Regions from separate parts of the Homo sapiens genome. Here regions 1 and 2 are each reported to be linked to region 3. The links are microRNA targets in miRTarBase. Many come from high-throughput screens and were not tested one by one. Region 3 holds a microRNA gene; each other region holds the end of a gene's coding sequence.
What was found. Region 3 holds the annotated microRNA hsa-miR-223-3p (UGUCAGUUUGUCAAAUACCCCA, at 2,251-2,272, opposite strand). A microRNA usually pairs through its seed, bases 2 to 8, with sites in the 3' UTR of a target mRNA and lowers its output. Matches are read on the target gene's strand: a 7mer-m8 pairs with bases 2 to 8, a 7mer-A1 pairs with bases 2 to 7 and ends in A, and an 8mer does both.

Region 1 (7,201 bases), not on the chromosome of region 3:
TGAGATTAATTAAGTTGCCTTTTTGGTCATTTCCAGAAAAACTTGCTTATGTTGATCTTGAATTCACCAGAGAAGCTAAAAATAAATCTTAGTATAGAATGCTTTTTGTTTACCAGATATAGCTATACACTTCAGAGATTCTGTCCTTGAATTTTTAATAGCTTCGCTAGGATTAAAAGTCAACACTTCACCATGCCAGTGTATTAGAAGAATCTTCCTGAAGTCTGATTATTGTTTGCCAGTTAATAGACTTTTCAATTAAAAAATATTTGCTCTGTCGTACACTTTTCCCTCCCCGTGTTTTCCAATGGCAAGTCGTTTTGAATCTCTTTTCCCTGTATTAGTCCAACAACTGTTAAAAAGCTTTGGTTGAAATTTTTTAGCTGAGAGAGAAATACAAATAAAAGAAGAAGCAGATGGTCCCTTTGTGACTGAATGAAGAAAAAGAGGTTTGAGAACAATATGTGAATAGGTGTAGTCTAATAAAACACTCAGCCACCTGCTGCCTGAATCCTTCAAAAAAGATTCTGTTGCATATTCTGGGGATTAACTATTAATGTATCCTTAGGTTTGATAGAAAACATAAACTTTGAGGGGTTTAGGCCCTCTTCTCCCTTTGTTTTGATTGAGTTGGCTCCTCTATATTTGAAATTGTTTCTCAATTCAATTTATCTGCTCAAGGGTATAATTAAAGGTTTTCTGACTCATGGCTAAATGAAGGAAAGGTAAGAAGAATGGACTTGTGGGCATTTCTTTTCTACCTTTGTTTTAAATTTTCTGGGCTCTTCCGACAGGCTTGCCCTTGCAGAGACAGAAGCAAGAGGCCTAGTGTGTCTGCAAAGAATGAATAAATATTTAGGTGCTTTTCTTCTTAAAATGCATTTTGATCCTTATTTGCGGACTTGCTTTCCCTTTCAGGGATTTACTCTTCAACCCGACTATCAGACTATTATCAATCCTACATCTACAGCTGCACAAGTTGTCACCCAGGCAATGGAGTATGTGCGTTCGGGGTGCAGAAATCCTCCCCCACAACCGGTGGACTGGAATAACGACTACTGCAGTAGTGGGTAAGCGGCCGGTCATCGCCACCTGGTGGTGGACAGCGCTCATAGCATGCATATCGTCCCTAGTTGATCGTTCTCTTGTTTCCAAAAACATGATCCGGGATAGTTTCACGTTCATGAAGGCAGAAGACACCAGAAATTGTTAAGCAGTCTTCTAGCTCTTCCAAGAATAAATGCCTTTAGCTCACTTCTCACTTCAGATGTAGGTTAACTAATTGCAGTTTCCCAGTGAACAGCTCAAGCTGGAGCAAATAATTCAAAGACATCCATCCCCCCATTGTCACCTGTAGCACAGGTTGTCCTGTAACAAGGAACTGTCTTTTTTCTCTTCCTACAGGGGCATGCAGAGGGACAAAGCACTGTACCTTACTTGAGAATCTGAACACCTCTTCTTTCCACTGAGGAATTCAGGGAAGTGTTTTCACCATGGATTGCTTTGTACAGTCAAGGCAGTTCTCCATTTTATTAGAAAATACAAGTTGCTAAGCACTTAGGACCATTTGAGCTTGTGGGTCACCCACTCTGGAAGAAATAGTCATGCTTCTTTATTATTTTTTTAATCCTTTATGGACATTGTTTTTCTTCTTCCCTGAAGGAAATTTGGACCATTCAGATTTTATGTTGGTTTTTTGCTGTGAAGTGCTGCGCTCTAGTAACTGCCTTAGCAACTGTAGATGTCTCGGATAAAAGTCCTGGATTTTCCATTGGTTTTCATAATGGGTGTTTATATGAAACTACTAAAGACTTTTTAAATGGCTTGATGTAGCAGTCATAGCAAGTTTGTAAATAGCATCTATGTTACACTCTCCTAGAGTATAAAATGTGAATGTTTTTGTAGCTAAATTGTAATTGAAACTGGCTCATTCCAGTTTATTGATTTCACAATAGGGGTTAAATTGGCAAACATTCATATTTTTACTTCATTTTTAAAACAACTGACTGATAGTTCTATATTTTCAAAATATTTGAAAATAAAAAGTATTCCCAAGTGATTTTAATTTAAAAACAAATTGGCTTTGTCTCATTGATCAGACAAAAAGAAACTAGTATTAAGGGAAGCGCAAACACATTTATTTTGTACTGCAGAAAAATTGCTTTTTTGTATCACTTTTTGTGTAATGGTTAGTAAATGTCATTTAAGTCCTTTTATGTATAAAACTGCCAAATGCTTACCTGGTATTTTATTAGATGCAGAAACAGATTGGAAACAGCTAAATTACAACTTTTACATATGGCTCTGTCTTATTGTTTCTTCATACTGTGTCTGTATTTAATCTTTTTTTATGGAACCTGTTGCGCCTATTTATGAAATAATAAATATAGGTGTTTGTAAGTAAATTTGTTAGTATTTGAAAGAGGTTTCTTTGATGTTTTAACTTTTGCTGGCAAAAAAAAATTCACGCTTGGTGTGAATACTTTATTATTTAGTTTTTACAGTAACATGAATAAAGCCAAACCTGCTTTTCATTTAGCAGCAAATTAAAGTAACCAGTCCTTATTTCTGCATTTCTTTGGTTGATGCAAACAAAAAACTATTATATTTAAGAACTTTATTTCTTCATACGACATAACAGAATTGCCCTCCAAGTCACACAAGCTCCAAGACTAAACAAACAGACAGGTCCTCTGTCTTAAAAAGGTTACTTCTTGGTTCTCAGCTGGTTCTAGTCAATTCTGAACCACCACCCCCCGCCCCCCGCAAAAAAGTAAAAGTCAAACCAAACTTCCTCAAGCTGCATGCTTTTCACAAAATCCAGAAAGCATTTAAGAATTGAACTAGGGGCTGGAAGAAGTGAAAGGGAAGCATCTAAAAATGAAAGGTGAGTAACCAGATAGCAAAAGAAAAGGGAAAGCCATCCAAATTTGAAAGCTGTTGATAGAAATTGAGATTCTTGCTGTCTTTTGTGCCTCTACAAGCTACTACTCATTCCAGAATTCCTGGGTCTTCCAAGAGGATTCTTAAGGTACCAGAGATTTGCTAGGGAACCAAAAGTGCTTGAGAATCTGCCTGAGGGCTTGCATAGCTTTCACATTAAAAAAAGAAAAAGCTAGCAGATTTACTCCTTTTTAGGGGATCATATCAAGAAAGTTAGTCTGGTTGGAAACCAAGAGAATGGCTGATGTCTCTTTCTTGGAATATGTGAAATAAATTTAGCAGTTTAACTAAATACAAATATATGCATTGTGTAATCCACTCAGAATTAAACAGACAAAAGGTATGCTTGCTTTGGAATGATTTTAGGCATTGTACAACCTTGAATCACTTGAGCATGTAATAACTAATAAATAATGCAGATCCATGTGATTATTAAAATGACTGTAGCTGAGAGCTCTAATTTTCCTGTCTTGAAACTGTATAAGAACTCATGTGATTAAGTTCACAGTTTATTGTTTGTCTGTTTAGTATTTTAGAAATATACCAGCACTACTAATTAACTAATGTCTTTTATTTATTATATTATGATAAAGTAAAAATTTCACTTGCATTAAGTCTAAACTGAGAAGGTAATTACTGGGAGGAGAATGAGCAGCTTTGACTTTGACAGGCGGTTTGTGCAGGAAAGCACAGTGCCGTGTTGTTTACAGCTTTTCTAGAGCAGCTGTGCGACCAGGGTAGAGAGTGTTGAAATTCAATACCAAATACAGTAAAAACAAATGTAAATAAAAGAAAACACATCATCAATAAAACTGTTATTATGCGTGACCGTATTCTATTTGGTGATCCATCAGTCTCTAAAAAGCAAGCCTAGTCAGATGAGAAATCCCAAATAAATTTTATGGTGGAAGTGATCGGGCAGAGTGGGGGTTAATGGCCGCCATGGCCACAAATGTTCTTTCCTGAAACTCTGAGAATGCCCTCTCACTAACCTGAGGCTCTAGTATAGTGAGCTGTTGCCTAGGAAATCCCCATCTTTCAGAAAGCCAGAATCCACCCTGGGCACAGTAGCCCAGCGGCTTGGAGCTTGTAGCTGAGAGGAACAGTGGGGGTGCACGCCGAGTTCTCTGCTGAAGCACTCCGAAGATTTCCAGCACCATCAGTAAAGTCATTCTGAGAGATAACAGCAACACTGTGGAACGACAGATTTCTTCACCAACACACCAAAACCAAAATTATAGCTGATTAGAAAAAGAAAAAATTGCGAGAGTGTGTAGGAGTGGGTTGAGTTGTGTCTCTAACATAATCGAGAAATGATTAAGAAAGAATAATTCAAAAATCCTGATTCCCATTCAAATGTGACCGAGTTGATAAGGCAAAATGAGTCAAATAATGACTTCCAGTTAGTCAAATTATAGCCAAGGATGAAGTTGGTCTCTGTGATTATTTTTATTATTTGTGTTAAACGCAAAGAGGCCTGTCTGCATGGACCACAAGCAGTCCATGGGAAGCCGTGGCCACCAAAGCAATACAGTCAACCCTCGAACAATGCAGGGGTCGGGGCACCAACTCCTCCCCACACCCACGCAGTTGAAAATGCCTATGCAACTTTGACCCCCGCAAAACTTAACTACTAATAGCCTATTGTTGAGGAGAAGCCTTACTGATAACATAATCAGTTGAGTGACACATATTTTCTATGTTTTATGTATTATATACTGTATTCTTAAAGTAAGCTGGAGAAAAGAAAATGTTATTAAGAAAATCATAAAGAAGAGAAATAAGTTATTAACTAGTGTCAATAAGTGGAAGTGGATTATCATAAAGGTCTTCATCCTCTTCTTCATATTGTATAGGCTGAGGAGGAGGAGGAAGAAGGGGGTTAGTCTCGCTGTCTCAGATGTGGCAGAGATGAAAGAAAATTTGCACATAAGTGGACTTGCTTGCTTCAAACCCTTGTTAATCAAGGGTCAATGTATACTCTGGCTCAGATTCATTACTAAGATATTTCTTAAACTTATGAATGCATGACTTAAAATTAGCACATCAACAACCAATCCCTTTTCTATGGATCTCTTGCCCTTTGCAAAAGAGTTGTCCCACTCATTGGAAAAGTGATTAGACTGAACCATATGAAATTGCTAATATTTGACCTGTTTTATCTATGAAATGGTAATTTCATATGATTCAACCAAAAGGTGTGGGAATTAGAGACAATGGGGTTTTGACCATAACTTGATATGTAATTTCAAATGGAATTAGAAGTACTTTACAAAGTCCTGGGAGAAAATGCTCAAAGGAATAATCAATTATGTTTGTTTACAAGGTACCCCACTTAGAATGAGTCCTAGACAGGTATGTTATATTAAACAAGGAATATTTTAAATTACCAGTAAATCCCAATAGCCATTCATATTTCTTTGTTATAGTAAAAAATTCATATGAACATTTGTAATAAATAGGTTATCTGCTGGAACAGAAAGTTTTTGTTAAACATAGACGTCCTCATGTTTATCCGTTAAATAGAGATTTGACCTACATTTTCTTATTCCACTCATAATTGTCATTTTCTTTTTTTTTCTTTTATTTCTTTTTTTTTTTTTTTTCTGGAGACAGGGCCTCACTGTGTCACCCAGGCTGGAGTGCAGTGGCACAATCTTGGCTCACCACAACCTCTACCTCCCGGGCTCAACCAATCCTCCCACCTCAGCCTCCCAAGTAGCTGGGACCACAGGTGCATGCCAACACGCCTGGCTAATTTTTTTCTATATTTTGCAGTGACAGGGTTTTGCCATGTTGCCCAGGCTGGTCTTGAACTCCTGGGCTCAAGCGATCCACGTGCCTCAGCCTCCCAAAAGTGCTGGGATTACAAGCATGAGCCACCGTGTCCAGCCATAATTGTTATTTTCAAGGAAGGATAGAAACAGAAAATTCATCTCTTTTGCTGATTATTAAATATTAAAATAGTGGCAAGGCAAGGTTAAAAATTCGTATCATGAGTTTAACCTCTAAATCTAAGTCACCCTTCCACTTAATGGTTGAATTCATGTGAGTCACCCCATGGTAAAAATCTCTTTGTCTGCCTGAAATTCAACAATTTCCTTATCTCCAAAACAATTTGGAATGTCATAGCACACAGTAGATGCACAAAAAATGCAATGATACAAAGAAAGATCAATAAAACATCATCAATTATCCTCAACAGGAATTGTATGGTGTTTTCTTGATGATTTAAAGGCTCTTTAAATATAGATGGGAATTGAATATTACAGGCAAGCATTAGGAGTGAAGATGCAAATGTTTCATTAAAAACCTAGGGTTACAAAAAGATTGAAAGAATTTCAAAATGAGTTATGCCATATTTTTTTGGCCTACATAGTTGAACAAGAGCTTTTCTATTTGTGACAAAAGTAAAAGATCTAATACACACTAGTCTCACCAAGAAAATAAGAAGGGAGAAAAGAGGTGCTAGACATGTAGGGTGTCAAACACAAGAGAGAACATTCAGGAGACAAGTTTCATGGATTCTAAATTAAACTATTGATGAACAGGATACTGAATTTTTTTTTTCTAATTACCAAGTGTTAGTATGACTTGGTGAAGCAAGGAAAAGACTGTATTTCCTGGTTCTATTTTTTAGGATTTTCAAAGGCGATTTCTCTACTTTTATTTGGAACGATTTCCCAGTGTGGAAAACCTTTCCTAACAAAAAAAAAGTCTCCAAATCTGTACACAAGACCATTGCTTGGAGAAAGGGGATGGGGAGCCCCCTAACCTCACCAACCACGGAGGAGGAAGGCTGGGAGCCGCGGGAGGAAGAGGTAACTTCAAACCCAAGTTAGACACACTTGGCAATCTACGTGTACACAGAGAGATTAGACTTTGCCTTCTCATTTCATACTTAGCCAAACATCTTGTCATTTGTATCCAGCATCAGCCTGCAATGTAGTAGATGAGAAGAAGTGAAGATGAAGTTCTTGTTCCCGGATGAGAGACAACTGAGAACAATGACCTGTTATAGTTCAGCACGGTCAGAGTTGCGCCTAATTAATGAAGCCCACCAGCAGGAATCATTTCACATTTTATTAACAGCTTGCTAGCAAAGACATTTGAAAGTGAAATTTTATTCACACTGACATGAGGCCAGAAGAAAAGAACAGTGACTAGAAAATAAAATGGAAAGACTTACGATACTACAGAGAAAACAAAAATCCCATTCTAAAGAAAGAGTATGAACCAAACTACAGTATTTTAAAGT
Region 2 (7,166 bases), not on the chromosome of region 3:
GGAAATTTGCCCTTTTAAGTTAGGAAGACTGACCCCCATCTTACTGCTCTCTTTCGAAGCTAGTCTAATGGAACAAGTAGACTCAGGACAACTTGGACTAAATGCACTGTAAACCACAATGGAAAAACTGCAGTGAGGTATTCCCAGTAGAAATCTTGGAATTCCTTCAAGTATATTGAGATTTTGTTAGAAATTGAATTGCCAGTGTAATCCATCTTCCTTTTGAGAAAACATTCAGATAAAGAGCTGAGGCCTAGCAGCATTAACTGTTAGAACATCCCTTAAATCAATAAGCTACAAATCTGGCCGCACATTCCTGCCGCGCCTGGTGGTGTGCTCAAGTGGCTTTAGGCTGAAGCAGCATGACTGATAGCACATCCTCAACCAGGCACATGCCTGGCGATGCAGATTCCTGTGTTTACCGTAAGCATTGCCTTGTTCCATTCTACAGAATGCAATTATATTTTGTTTCACATAAGAAAAGCAGTTTTTCTTTTTTTTTTCTTTTTTTTTTTCTTTTTTTCAGATTTTCCAAATGTGGTTATTGAAGGAGTCCTCCATGGGATATTTTACCCTCATCTACAGCCCAGGTAGAAATCCTACATGGCTAAAAGAAGCAGAAGCAAGTTTCGAAGTCACAGTCAAGGAAATCAATACCTACCAATTTAACCTAAACGCTATGATATATAACAGCTCTAGCTAGTGGTAAAGTGCACAGTCCCAGCTTAATTCAGGGCAGGGACATTTCCATTAGAATGGTGCTCTTAAAAATAGAAACTGAACCGGGGCGGTGGTCAGGCTAAGGCCAAGTGTTTAAGAAGTAGAGTGTAGCTGCCAGCGTAGAAACCCATGAAAAGGAGGCCACAGGAGATTCCTGGGAGCACTGGGTGTAGCAAAACAAAGCCACTCTCTGCTTCAGTCGCACCATTTGCTAATTGAAAATCATATCCTGAATCATACTGAGACTGATCAACTTTGGTAGCTTTTTTGTTCAGATCTTATGACACACTACTCTTCTCACCGTGAGATTTTCTCAGCCAGTGATAGTACATTCTGAAATGCTGGCACCAGGAGACGGCCACAGACACACACTGCTAAATGTGAAGATGGAACTAAACTGGAAATTAAATTATACTGACAATATTATGGCATTTTTAAGATCATGGCATTTTAATTTACATTAGAGTGGAGTTGCATCATACTCAGGGGTTAGCTTCCAAGGTCAGTACATAGGTAAAATGGGCTATTAGGATGATCCTTGAAAGCCCTTTAGAAGGGTGCCATGTTGGAAACCTGTACATCCACAACAAGTAGCTTTTCCTCCTATGTTGGAAAAAAAGACTGTTTCTTTGTTTGAAGACCAAGTGAAGTTGTTGGTGTTTGTTTAGGGGCCATTTTGTTAAAAAAAAAAAAAAAAAAGCACATAACTTTTAACACTAGAATCAGCCCGCAAGATGCTTGCCCCGCTAGTGGCAGATGTGAACTGACAAGGAGTGAAGCGCCCACCCAGCGGATGGACAGCACCCACCTGGGTTTACTCAAGGGTGTGCATTCATTTTAGGTGGGATCGCCACAGGATTTCATGTTATTTTCCTTACGGCTTCCTTTTCACTGACCTCATTTGTTGAGTTAATGTAAGTTAAATGTGTTTATGATATAACTCCACTGTACATCATCCTTTGAGTAGTAAAGGATAAAAGCATATATACTACCTATATGTATGTGCTGTATGTGGGCATTTCATTGAGATCTAATTAATAGCTAGCCTATTTATGGTTATTCGTTTTAGTAAGTTCTGTGGGAGCAAGGTATTTAAAATCAAAACTAATAACTACATCATGGTTTTTGATTAGGATCTAAATATTCAGGTTTTAAGCCTGCTGCAAACTTTTAAAATATTATGATAGATTCTGTACTACATGTGGGAAACAAGCAAGAACTAAATAATCAAATGTTGTCAACCAAAAGTAATAGTTGGGTATTGGAGATTTTTTTAAAATGTTTTTATGTTATTAGCTATTTGGAGTTAAATAAAAACAGAACAAGGAAACATTTGAGTTTGTCTTCTCCTAAGATTTCACTGGAAACATGGTTTGTATCTGTCTGTTTACACACACACACACATATGTGCACACACAAAACCTCTCACACATTCACATAGATGTTTATTTCTAATATGATAAGATAAATTATTATAATAAATTATCTCATCTATTAAGTCAGTAGATGTTCATTAAATATTTGATGATTTACCAAGATAATAAGAATTTTTTTGAAAAAACCAAGTATCTATAGTGGTACACTGCCCAAGAAATCTTTTCTGAGAATTAAGTTTTTTCTTAGTGATGACTTTCGCTTTTTATATTTATGTAAATTTTATTTCCCATGTCAAACAAGTCATATGCAGACATCATAAGATTTGCAGGAGGCACACCTCACAAGAGTGGGAAAACCCAGTCATCACACTTATGCACTACACAAGGATCATATCTATTTAAACTTTTAATGTGTAATTCTGTCAGGGTTATTGAAGGAACTAGAAACCAGTGTAGGTCTTTTACGCAGAAAAGGCTATAATGCTGAAAACTGAATGCTTACAGAATCTGTTGGAAGGGTGAGAGGAGTGCACTCCTGGTAGGTGTCCAAGAACAAATTCCAGAATGCCCCAGCAACTTCTAGCACTGACCTGCCTGGGGAGCTACAGCCTGTGCTGTAAGCAGGAATACAGGGAGTTAGGGGGCTGTGAGCGAAGCTCTTGAGGTAAACAGCATGAGAGCTGCAATCCAGGGATCAGCAAGTAGAATCAAAAAGGACCTGTTATCTCCATGAGATACGGAGCTCCCAGGAAATATAATGGCGATCTCTCTATGAGGTGCGGCCTCATAGCAGCACCCAGGAAGCTGGTGACTGGGCCTGCATCACAATTGCCTATCAACATCCGTGGCCTTGCTTGCCAGCAACCACAGCCCAAAGTGGCAGGAGGATGGTATTCGCCCACTCCCACCTCCCACTCCATAGCTCCCTTCAACGCACATCCAGTTTGTAGAACCTTATTCTCCATCCCAGGTGCAGGGAGTCTGGGAAGAAGCTGCTAGCCTTCTACAGCTCAGGAATGCACATGGGAAAGATGATGGAACTTTTTTTTTTTTTTTGAAGACGGAGTCTTGCTCTGTTGCCCAGGCTGGAGTGCAGTGGCACAATCTCAACTCACTGCAACTTCTGCCTCCTGGGTTCAAGCATTCTCTGCCTCAGTCTCCTGGGCAGCTGGGATTACAGGCGCATGCCACCACGCCTGGCTAATTTTTGTATTTTTAGTAGAGACAGTGTTTCACCATCTTGGCCAGGCTGGTCTTGAACTCCTGACCTCGTGATCCAACCACCTTGGCCTCCCAAAGTGCTGGGATTACAGGCATGAGCCACCGTGCCCAGCCAGAACATATTTCCATCATTTCCATGGTTGAAAATTTAATAAAAAATATATAAAACTATAGATAAAAAATAAATTTGTCTCCCATCTCATCTCCTAATACCGAATTCCCGTTCCACAGAAGGGAGTACTTAATGTGTCTGTACTTAATGTGTCTACTTTGAGTAATATTTCATCTACATACAAGCAGATATTGTATGTTTAGTGTACATATATTTAATTTCTCCTCTTTTACAAAAATGGTAGCACGCAATACCCATTGCTTTCTATTTTTTTTTATTTAACAATATCTTGGCAATCTTTCTGTATCAGTATATAAAGTGCTATTCTCTTTTTAAAAAAAAAAAGCTGTATGGATCTTCTATAATTTGTGTAACCACTACCATATTGATAGACATTTTACTTTTCGATTTCACTAGGCATGCCTGGCCCATATTGCTCTACAGGTTGTGCATTGCACAAGTCCAAGCAGTGTCATTCACATGGACCACAGTGTTAATAGTATTCCAAGTCATGCTTGGAACCCTGCACTTGGGGAAATATCAAAAACTTTAATCATTCAAACCATGGATTCACAGGCAATAGAGAAGTAAAGGACAGAGAAAGGAAACCAGAGGAAGGAAAAGGAAAAAAAAAATCCCATTACCACTTAAGTCAGGATGTGGGGACATCATTTGTCCTGCCTGGTTCCTGGACTTGGTGTTTTGCCTGGACTGTCTTCGATGCTACCTTATGCAGTGCCTCTCAGGCCTCATCTCTGCCTACTCATTCTGCATATTGGCAGCCCTCGTGTCCTTTCTCCTGGTGTCCTTGTTACTGCCCCCATTACAATCAGCCATGTGAACAACCCCAATATCACCATGACCATCAATACCTGGTAAATCCTACAGTTACAGTTATAAGTTCCCATTGAAAAGAAGTTGAGCTCTCTTAATCAGTTTAGAGAAATATGATCACACTTTTGAAATAACAGATGGTTTTCATCTCATTTGTCAACTTTGATCGATTGACAATGGCTGCTTGAAGTGCTGCATCAAGAAGAATTCTGGCACACCTGTGAGGATGGCTACTATCAAAGCAGAAAATAACAAGTGTTGGTGAGGAGGTGGAGAAATTGCAACCCTTGTAACTGTACATTGCTGGTGGAAGTGTGAAATGGTTGCAGCCTCTGTGGGAAATGGTATAACTTCTTCAAAAAATTAAGCATTGAATTGCTATGTGATTCAGCACTTCCACTTCTGGATATATACCTAAAAGAAGAAAGCAGGGACTCAAACAGCTATTTGTATAATGATATGGTTTGGCTGTGTCCCCACCCAAATCTCATCTTGAATTAATCTTAGTTCCCATAATCACCACAGGTCGTCAGAGGGACCTGCCAGGAGGTAATTGACTCATGGGAGCAGTTACCCCCATGCTGCTGTTCTTATGATAGTGAGTGAGTGCTCGTGAGATCTGATGGTTTTATGAGGGGCTTTTCCCCCTTTTGCTTGGCACCTCTCCTTCCTGCCATCATGTGAAGAAGGATGTGTTTGCTTCCCCTTCTGCCAAGATTGTAAGTTTCCTGAGGCCTCCCCAGACATGTGGAACTGTAAGTCAATTAAACTTCTTTCCTTTATAAATTACCCACTCTCGGGCAGTCCTTTATAGAAGCATGAGAACGGACTAATACATATATTCATGTTCATAGCATATATTCATAGTAGCCAAAAGGTGGAAACAACCCAAGTGTCCGGCAATGGATGAATGGATAAAAAGGAAATTCTGACACATGCTGCAACACAGATGAACCTTGAAGACATTCAGAGACATAAGCCAGTCACAAAAAAGCAAATACTGTATGATTCCATTTCTATGAAGTATCTAGCGTAGTCAAATTTATAGAGACAGAAAGTGGAACTTTGGTTGACAGAGGCTGGGGGAAAAGAGGAAATGGAGAATTAGTGTTTAATAGGTTTCAGCTGGGGAAGATGAAAACATTCTGGAGCTGGCTGGTGGTGATCATTGCTTAACAATGTAATGTACTTAATGCCATAGTATTGTACACTAAAAATGGTTAAAATAAATTTTATGTCATGTATATTTTACCACAATAAAAACAATAAAGGCTTTTGAGTGACTGCAGGCTCAGAGAATAAGGCTGTACTGATCAGGTAGCACTGTCTGTCGTGGGTGCAGGAGAGCTTTTGGCACACATACCAGTTACTAGTCTCACATCCCTGGCAACCTCTACAATCCTGAAACAGTAGTTCTAAACCAGAGATTTGCATCAGAATCACTTGGGATTCTGAATCAATAAATCTGGCCAGAGACCTGTCCTTGGGTAGTTAGAAACACCACCCAGTTCACTCTGATACACACCTGTATTAGGGACCACCAATTGATGGAGATGGTTTATGACCCACCCTTTAGCCATCTTGAATTATTTATTGACTTTCATAACTCCTTCAGAATCCAGTACCAAGAGAACATCTGTTCAACTCTTGGGGGTGTTTGTTATATGAGGTCACAGGAAAAGACCCTGAAGAAGCAGGAAGGACAAGTTTGGGTAGTGGTCTCAATAGATGCACTATACATAATTGGGAAGTTGTATATTCATTCATTCAGTTGTTCAGTGAAATGCATTTGGGTCCCCCCACTGGATTAAGGCACTATGTTAATTACTTAAAGAATACAGATGTAATCCTTGCCTTCTGGAATTGTTGGCCATTTACTAGGAAGGGTTTTTCCATCTTAATGAATTGGACATAAAGTTCAGTGATTAAGGCTGTCTTCTTCCAGTCTCTCTACTCCTTGCAAGTAATTATTTTCATTTTGGCTTTGTTTTGGTTTTTATTCTTGATGATAATTACAGATTTTGAATTCAGCAGCGGAAACACAGGGAAGTAGCAGGCAGTAACTCAAAACCAAAATGTCTGCAACGTTTATGTTTTCTGTCTGTGCAGATACATAGTGACAGACTGGATTCTGATGAGGGTGAAGGTCTATTTTTGTGTGACGGGAAGGAGGGCATATTATCTATGTTAAGTCATTGGAATACACTTAATTTACTAGAAGAAAATTTTGTGTCCTAAGAATGTGGTTGTAAATCTGGCCTATAAAATGTGAACCATTTTCTGTTTTCATTACACTTAACAGTAGTTACAGTGACAGCTAGGACATTGGTGTCCCTAGCTACAATATTCTATGTCATTTAGATACTCCTATGAACTCCTATGTACTGAGTTTCTACTGGATGTCATGTATTGTTGGACTAGGGTTTTGCATATTTTATCACGTTAAGTTCTTTACAGAGTAGTTTTTAGTGCCCCATTTTACTGAAGAAGAAATTGAAGATCAGAGACATTAATAAAAATAGTAGCTAACATGAATGAATACTAATTTAGGGGCCAAGAGGCACTGGGCTAAATCATGTTAATGGACCATCTCATTGAAGCTTCACAACATCTTTAAAAATGTGTGTATTCTTATTCCAATTTAAAGTGATTAAAAGGAAGCTTAGAGAAGTGAAATAGCTTGACCAAGGATACCAGTTAATAAAGCTTGGGCGAATCCAGTCCCTAATCAGCCTCACAATAGAATTGTATTTATGTGCTTTTTTGGAGATGGGGTCTCCCACTGTTGCCCAGGCTGGAGTACAGTGGCATGATCTCGGCTTACTGCAGTCTCCACCTCCTGGAAACAAGCAATCATCCCACCTCAGCGTACCAAGTAGCTGGGACTACAGGCACACGCCACT
Region 3 (7,201 bases):
TGTGTGTGTGTGTGTGCGCACGACAGAGAGAGAGAGAGAGAGTTTGTATGTGTACATAAGTTCCTACACCTTTAAATCAGGCTCCGCTGTGAGGACCTGTTCTGACCCAGGTTGACACAGTTTTATTTTCTCGATGTAATTAATGTCAAATCAACTTCTGCACTCTTCAAGGAAGCTGCCATGTTGCTATTTCTGGTTCCCATGCAGCCCCTAGGTCAGCTCATGTTTCACAAGGAGCTGCTCCCCTTTTGCAATGATTACAGAAGTCAAAATAGTACACGAAAGTAACAAAAAGGAGTCCTCCACTTCACCGCCACCCAACATGCCAAATCCAGGGTAAAAACCTCAACATTTTCCTCATTCCAGACGCTAGCTTCTCCTAGTTGGCGAAAGGAACAACTCTTTCTTCCCCATCGTGCTTACAAGCCTCTGAAATAGGGCCTCCACCCAGTGGAAACCCCAACTTCCTTCATGAAACAACTCTGCGTCCAGACCCTACAGCCTTTGAAAATACCCATTATCTTTCCCTACTACCCATAGAAAAAGTGAGTTTTAGGTGTTGGGAAGAGAATCCTGGTTGCATTTTCACTGGTAAAAGGAGCCACACATCCAGGGACGCTGCTCCATAAGAGCTAAGGACTCCCAGGGATATCTCAAAGTCATTAATCTTAAAGAGCCTAGAGATCACTGATTCTAATACTTCCGTATTGGAGATGAGAAAATGAAGCTCAGAGAGGAACAAAAACACAGTTAGTGGTAGAAAGGAGACCAAAAGTCAGGCCTGTGAACTCCTCAGTGCATATATTTATTGCAGCATCTGGATCTTCTTTGCCTCAAAACTTAGAATATTTTTAAATACAGGACAAGCTAGTAAAGAATTCCTATGTAATAAAGATAGTCCACAGCTGCAGAGGCTAAACAAAAATGAGATGATAACATGTGACCTTTCTTAGGCAGATGGCTGGTTGGGGAAAGTAGATGAATGAAAAGAGGAAAAGATCTCCAGAAGAGCGGGAAGGTATAAAGTTTCTCTAGGACAGTTTCCCAAATCGTGCTTCATTGGACATTGACACAGGAGAAGGCTGTGGGGGAAAAGAAAATTCATGATCAGATAGGTATGGCAAATGCCTCATTCTATGGTTTCCTCTTTGAGATTCTCAATGCAACATTAGACTATTAAAGGCTCTGAAAAATCCTACAAGAAAACACCTGTATAACCTTGTGTGACCAAGTAATACCAAAATTTATTTGCCCTCTGAGTCTGCTATTTTGCCCTCTTCCTCCAGCCCTTGACACTGTTTCTCAGGAAGAAAACATCCTTCATGCTGGCTACTACCTCATATGCTCTATAACATTGTGGTGTTCACAGTTTGAATTTTTCAAAATCCAGGGTAGAATTTGGCCCCCAAACCTAAAGCTAGTGGACAAGAGGAAAGTCAATCAATCAGTAAATATTTATTATTTTCTGTAACTAAAGTACTGGGCTGTGGTAGGGGAGACAACAATCAAAGACATAGCCTTGTCTTCCAGAAGCTCACAATCTAGTTGGGAATTCAAGAATACCCCTTAGAAAAGTTCATTGACAATTTACGAGGTGCTATTAGACAGTAGGAGAGAAAGGCATACATACCAGGGCCCAGGGAAGAAGAGCTTTGTGAATGAAGAAGGAAAAAGTGTAAGTTGACTTTCAAAAGTCTCTGGAAACACTGGACTTTAGCTGGTCCAGGAAATATAGGGAAGAATTGGATAGGCAGGAATAAATGGAGAAAGTGTTCCTACAGGAAAAGACATGTGGAAAAGGGGAGAGGTAGGCAAGATCAAGGAGTGTTTAGAAGGCAAGACTGAGTATCAAGAAAGTGAATTTCTAAGCCCTGCTTACTCAGATAAGCCATTAGGCTTGTGTGAGAATGCTGATGTCCTAGATAGGAGACTCTGGGAGGGGAATATGAAGGAAGAAAATAATAATGAATCAAAGAGCACTTCCATTCCTGGACACTTTATACATTTTCAAGACTATTGCGCCCCCATCAGCACTCTCATGGTGTGTGTAGACACAGCCCAGGGCTGTATTTCCCTGAGATGCCACACTTTTCCCCTGGTGTCCTCAGATATAATGCCTCAGTTCCTGCAAAGTCACATAAAATAACTTGTGAGAACTTGGTGCTTGGTGAGCATCCTTGTATCCAGCTGGCAGTCCATTCGTCATATCCCATCTGCCCTGGCCTAGAGCTGGTAAGCATGTGCCGCACTTGGGGTATTTGACAAACTGACACTCTACCACATGGAGTGTCCAACTCAGCTTGTCAAATACACGGAGCGTGGCACTGCAGGAGGCCAGGCCAAGAGCTTCTGTGGGGAAGTGAGATCTTCCTGGGAGATGTGACCCTAGAGGGAAAGAGAGAGAAAGGAATGATGAAGTCACACCCTTAGCCCCGGGGATCTTGCTCAAAGGACCAACCAAAGCACCAGAATAGGGAAGTGAGCAAAATAGGCATAGGGTTCCTAACCAGAAGAGAGATCCTGAAGATAAGCAGGTAAAGCCCGAGTGACACCCAGTGCTCAGCTGGAAGCTCATCAGGCCTGAGTCCTGTAGCTATGGCATTTCTAGGGGTCCCAAGCTTCAGTGGGTTCCTCTATGCAGCAGAGAGGGGAAAATTTGGTCATCATCCTGCCTCCCTGACTTGAGGAAAGTACCAGACCCTAGAGTCAGCATCCTTGCTCCCTCTTCTCAATTCTCCCAAGCTGTGTTTTCAGTGTTGTGGTTATGCACATAGGCTTTGAGGTTAAACATGAGCTTAAATCCTAGTTCTTCCATTAGCTAGTTAGGCAACCTTGGATACATCATTTCACCTCTCTGAGCTCAAGTTTTCTACACCCACAAAATGTATGTAAGTATAATACCTACCTCATAAGGTTATTGTGAGAATGACAGGAGATAATGCATGTAAAGCCTTTGGTTCAGTATTCAATACATAACAAATGCTCAAAAAGTAGTGGTTGTGTGACCAAAATGAAAGAAAGAGCTATTGGCAATTGATTTAGCAGGATCTGGACAGGTGTGACATTGATTTCTTGTGGTCTCAGCCTTGCCTAACATGATCCTCTTGTCCCATAGGGACTCAAGAATGGCAGCTATTAAAGTGCCCTTAAAGATCATCTAGTCTCACTCACTTAGGTTATAAATGAGATAACAAAGGCTCCTGTTGGGGAGGAGACTTGTAAAGTTTATACAATAAATTTTTTACAGTTCAGCAGTATGCCTTATACAGCTTTCCTCATTGGTTATTTTGCCTCCCTTCTCTGTATATCCCTCTGGGAAAGGGAAGACACATCAACAAAGAGGGCAAAAACAGGCAATAGCTTTGTAATGCAACATTTGGGATCACTGAACCCACAAGCCACCAGGGCAATAAGGAAGCTGCCAGGAGCAGGGTCAGGTCTGAAACTTCTGGGAGAATTCCCTTGGCAACAATCAGATCCTGTTGCTAAAAATCCCAGGTTGCTGGTGTCAAATTACTGCCCTTACCAGCTGTGGCAGTTGATCTGTGAGCAGGTAGCTGGTCTACATTAAATATTGTCATGAAAAGTGGCAAACATCACAAGGTTACCAGAAATGGTAAACTGCCCCCATGAGGCCGGAAAGCCCTGTCCCAGCCCAGGTAAGACAGAGGGATTCAGCCTTGTCTTTCAGCAAGAAAACAATCAGTGTCTTTTCTTGCTCTATTCTTTTAATTGAATGTTAAGAAGGTAACATACTCCTTCAATTTAAGTTCTGGCAGTCATCTCAAAACTAAAGCTCTTTCACTCCCTCACTTCCTTTTCTACCTACCCAATTCAGCCTAATCCACCCAGCAGCAAAAGCAGCAGTCATGGTCACCAAATATGGCATGACAGAATCGACAAACTTGTGTTCTAATGCTGTCTTGGCCATCAACTAGCCAATCATGGCTTGGGCAAGTCTTTCTTTGGGTTTCAGTTGTCTTCTCTGGAAATGAGAACAAGGAGACTTACCTACTTACCTGGCAAAGTTGTTGGAAAGTGTTGCTAAGCTTTCCAGAGCCTCCCACATAGGAGCTCAAAAGGACCTTGTCTCAGCCCCTGGACCTATGGTTGGAGGCCAGCCAAGCAAGCTGATTAACAGAGTCTGAGTTGGGGATGGCAGGAGAAAAAGAAATGGATTGTTACCTTTTTTGTATCATTACACTCATTGGCTGTCAGCTCCAGTAAGAAGACCTAGATAAGCTGGAGGTGTTCACAGCCTTTTGAATGCACTTTCTGACTTTATTCACCTCCAGAAAGGCTGGAAAGGAGGCATGAAAGGGGCTAAAAATTATTAGTACTTTGAAATTTGTGGAGCCTTATAGACAACATTGCTTCAGTATTAATGGAAGGAGTTAGTGGTTGAGCTGAAACTAGACTGGTATGCCTCTCCAATGGAGTGTATGTAAGAAAATCACATTCAGTTGAGAAATGTTCACCAGACCCATAGAAAGAAGACATAAATATCTATATGGGATGATATTAAGGGAATTTGAAAGCTCTTCTCTTGGTCTGTTATATTACTTAGAATAACATCATTTTTCCCCATATGAAATGCAAAATCCTCTACTGAAGAGCGTCATCAAGCCACTATTGTTGATGCAAAGGATGGGTCAGTTTTTATGGAGGGAATTGGAGGGAATAGACCAGAAGAATTAGGGGTAAGTAGGTGTCTAGGAATCTCTGAACACTCAGAGTGAGCCAAGTACCTGAAAGAAAAATAGAAGAAAAGAAGAAGTCCTCAGGACCATGCCTAAAAATCCCAGACTGCCTCTAGTATGAGCAGGACCTGTCCTGGGTCAGTTACAGGACAGGTCCTGCTGCTTGATGTCTCAGTCCTCCTAGGATAGAGCAAAAAGAGGACTGACCTGGGAGCCCAGACCCAGCTGTGCTACAGATTCTCTGTATGACTTTGGGCAAGTCCCTTTCTTCCTCTTTCTGGACCTCAGTTTCTTCCATATGTACCTAGTCTCTAAGAGTCTTTCAATTTTGAATCTCTAGGAGTCAAAGATTGGACTAGAAAAGAGGCTTTCATCTTTGAGTCATGCCTCTCAGAGAGTGCTATATGGATTACCACCAGCACTCTCCTCTTGAATGTGTTCAGCCCCACCCACAGTTACATATGCAAAGATTACTCTCATCTTCTTTCTTGACAGAGGGCTGACAATCATGAAAATTAGGAATCTAATAACCATGGGTCTCTAGACAGCATCTATCTAATCATTCTTTTCCTCTTTTTACTTTTTTATTTTGCAAAAGGGGTGAAAAAACTGTGTCCTAGATTGGAGAAAGGACTTACCCAAAGATACACATTGGGTAAATGGTAAAACCAGGACTGCTACTCAGGTTTCCTGACTCCTGGGTCCAAAGGCCATTCCACTTCCATGTGACTATCTCCTAAACATCCTGATTGGATAGAAAATATCCTATCCCCTTTTCCCCTCCATTAGAACCTCTAGGATAAAAGGCCAATGGAAGCCTTCTTCCTCCCACCTTTGACCTTAATCCCTGAGGAGGGTCTGAAGAGAATGGGATGGGCAGATCCAAGCCACCCTTGGCTGCCATGGACTCTGCCCCAGCTTGAGAATCCAAGAAGAGAGGGCAAATGGATACCATACCTGTCAGTGGAGTGGTGCCTTGGTCATGGAGGGGACTCTGATTCCCCAGTGCTGAGCCAACCTGCAGGGGCCAGATGGAATTGGGCTTTCTGCCGTGAGCAAGAAGCTTCTGTGTTTTGAAGGGCCCTTGGTGTCTTCAACAGGAAACAGAAATGAGGAAGATAAGACTGAGGTTAGCCAACGGAAATCTGGATGCAAAATGACAAAACAATGCTGTTGTGAAAGGGTCTGCTACTGCAGCAATAGTAGCAGGCCACTGCCCTGCCTCCACCAACTCCCAGCTGACCTTCAACAGACACTAACTTTCCAAGCTGCAGAGAGAGAGAGAGTAGAAAGCACCTGGCTGCCCTAGGCTCTGCCTGTGGGTCAAGGAGGTTTTCCCAGAATAATTGAGGGAAACCTGGAATACCAGAACTGAGACATTATCTAATGAAAAAACCCGTAGTCAAAATTGAGAAACAGAGCCTCTGAGGGATAAAAGGAAATACTCAGTATCACAAAGCAAATTAGTGGAAAGCTGAAATTTAAACCCATCCCCATGGACTCCAAATCACATGTTCTTTCACTCTGCCAGAATGCCTCCTGGTCCTGGAATACCATTTTACTTCCAACTTCTCTCCTGGCATACAGAACCAGCTACATAATTTGCAAGGCCCAGTAAAAAATGAAAACGATAGGCCCTTTATTTAAAAATTAAGAATATCAAGATGATGACAGCAGAACATTAAACTAAGTGTGGGGTCCTTCTAAGCATGGAGCCCTGTGAAGCTGTACAAGTCATATGCCTATGAAGCTGGCTCTGGGGCACAGTTATGACCACAAGCCACATTCTGTCATCTTGGGGCTTGCTGAAGGAAATAAATAAGGAAATTCACATTTATTGGAGTACTTATGATATTCTTTCATGTGTATTATCTAATTTATTCAACAACTCTCTGGTATGGTATTATTATTCTTATTTATAGGTGAGGAAACTGAGGCACACAGAAATAAAGTGACCTGTCTAAGGAAACAAAACTAGAAAATAATAGAGAAGGCAGATTTTTCACTCAGGTCTAACTCCAAATGTTGAGGTTTTCGTCTACTTTCCCACATTGGCTACAAGGAAGGGAGAAGAAAGTAGTTGACTTTGAGAAAGAAAAATTAGTGCCAGACCCCTAAGTTCAACTGTGACCTTCAGGCTAATGAGGGACATGAAAGGTGTGAAAAGAAGGTGGATGGTTTCTTAATGCCTCATGTTTGCAGTCTCCTGGAAGTCCCCACTAACAGCCAGGAAGATGATGAATTCCCATCATGCAGTGCCCTCCACCATGAATTCTGATGGCATGAAGGATGGGAGGGGCAATGCTTTCAGGTTATACTTTGATAGCTTTCAATGACTGCAGTGCCCAAGTCACAGTCCTCTGTCTACACTAGTGGAAGTATGGCCCTGAGTGATAGTCAAGCCGTGGTAAATAATCTTTTCAAGCTATGTACATTCTTATATACTCAGGCTCAAAAGAAAGACCACATTCTGCGAGCCAAGAGCCCTGGGCCCTAGTCCC

Region 1: miRTarBase lists TOX as a target of hsa-miR-223-3p. Seed matches in the 3' UTR shown: 7mer-m8 at 2,001-2,007.
Region 2: miRTarBase lists SNX24 as a target of hsa-miR-223-3p. Seed matches in the 3' UTR shown: 7mer-A1 at 1,134-1,140 and 8mer at 1,482-1,489.

Annotation. Positions count from the first base shown.
Region 1 is chr8:58,801,987-58,809,187 of GRCh38, reverse strand. TOX (thymocyte selection associated high mobility group box) reads left to right here. Exons shown (of 9, transcript NM_014729.3): 8 at 919-1,070; 9 at 1,405-3,776. The coding sequence ends at 1,441. Among named protein-coding and RNA genes, the nearest start is that of NSMAF, 150 kb to the right of the region's middle. RefSeq lists an enhancer at 944-1,238.
Region 2 is chr5:123,007,156-123,014,321 of GRCh38, forward strand. SNX24 (sorting nexin 24) reads left to right here. Exons shown (of 7, transcript NM_014035.4): 7 at 527-2,050. The coding sequence ends at 594. LOC124901213 (small nucleolar RNA U13) reads right to left here and starts at 2,485; the gene lies at 2,387-2,485.
Region 3 is chrX:66,014,008-66,021,208 of GRCh38, reverse strand. It overlaps MIR223 (microRNA 223), which reads right to left and starts at 2,339; the gene lies at 2,230-2,339. MIR223HG (MIR223 host gene) reads right to left here and starts at 5,748. Exons shown (of 3, transcript NR_170299.1): 1 at 5,658-5,748; 2 at 4,020-4,144; 3 at 783-2,385.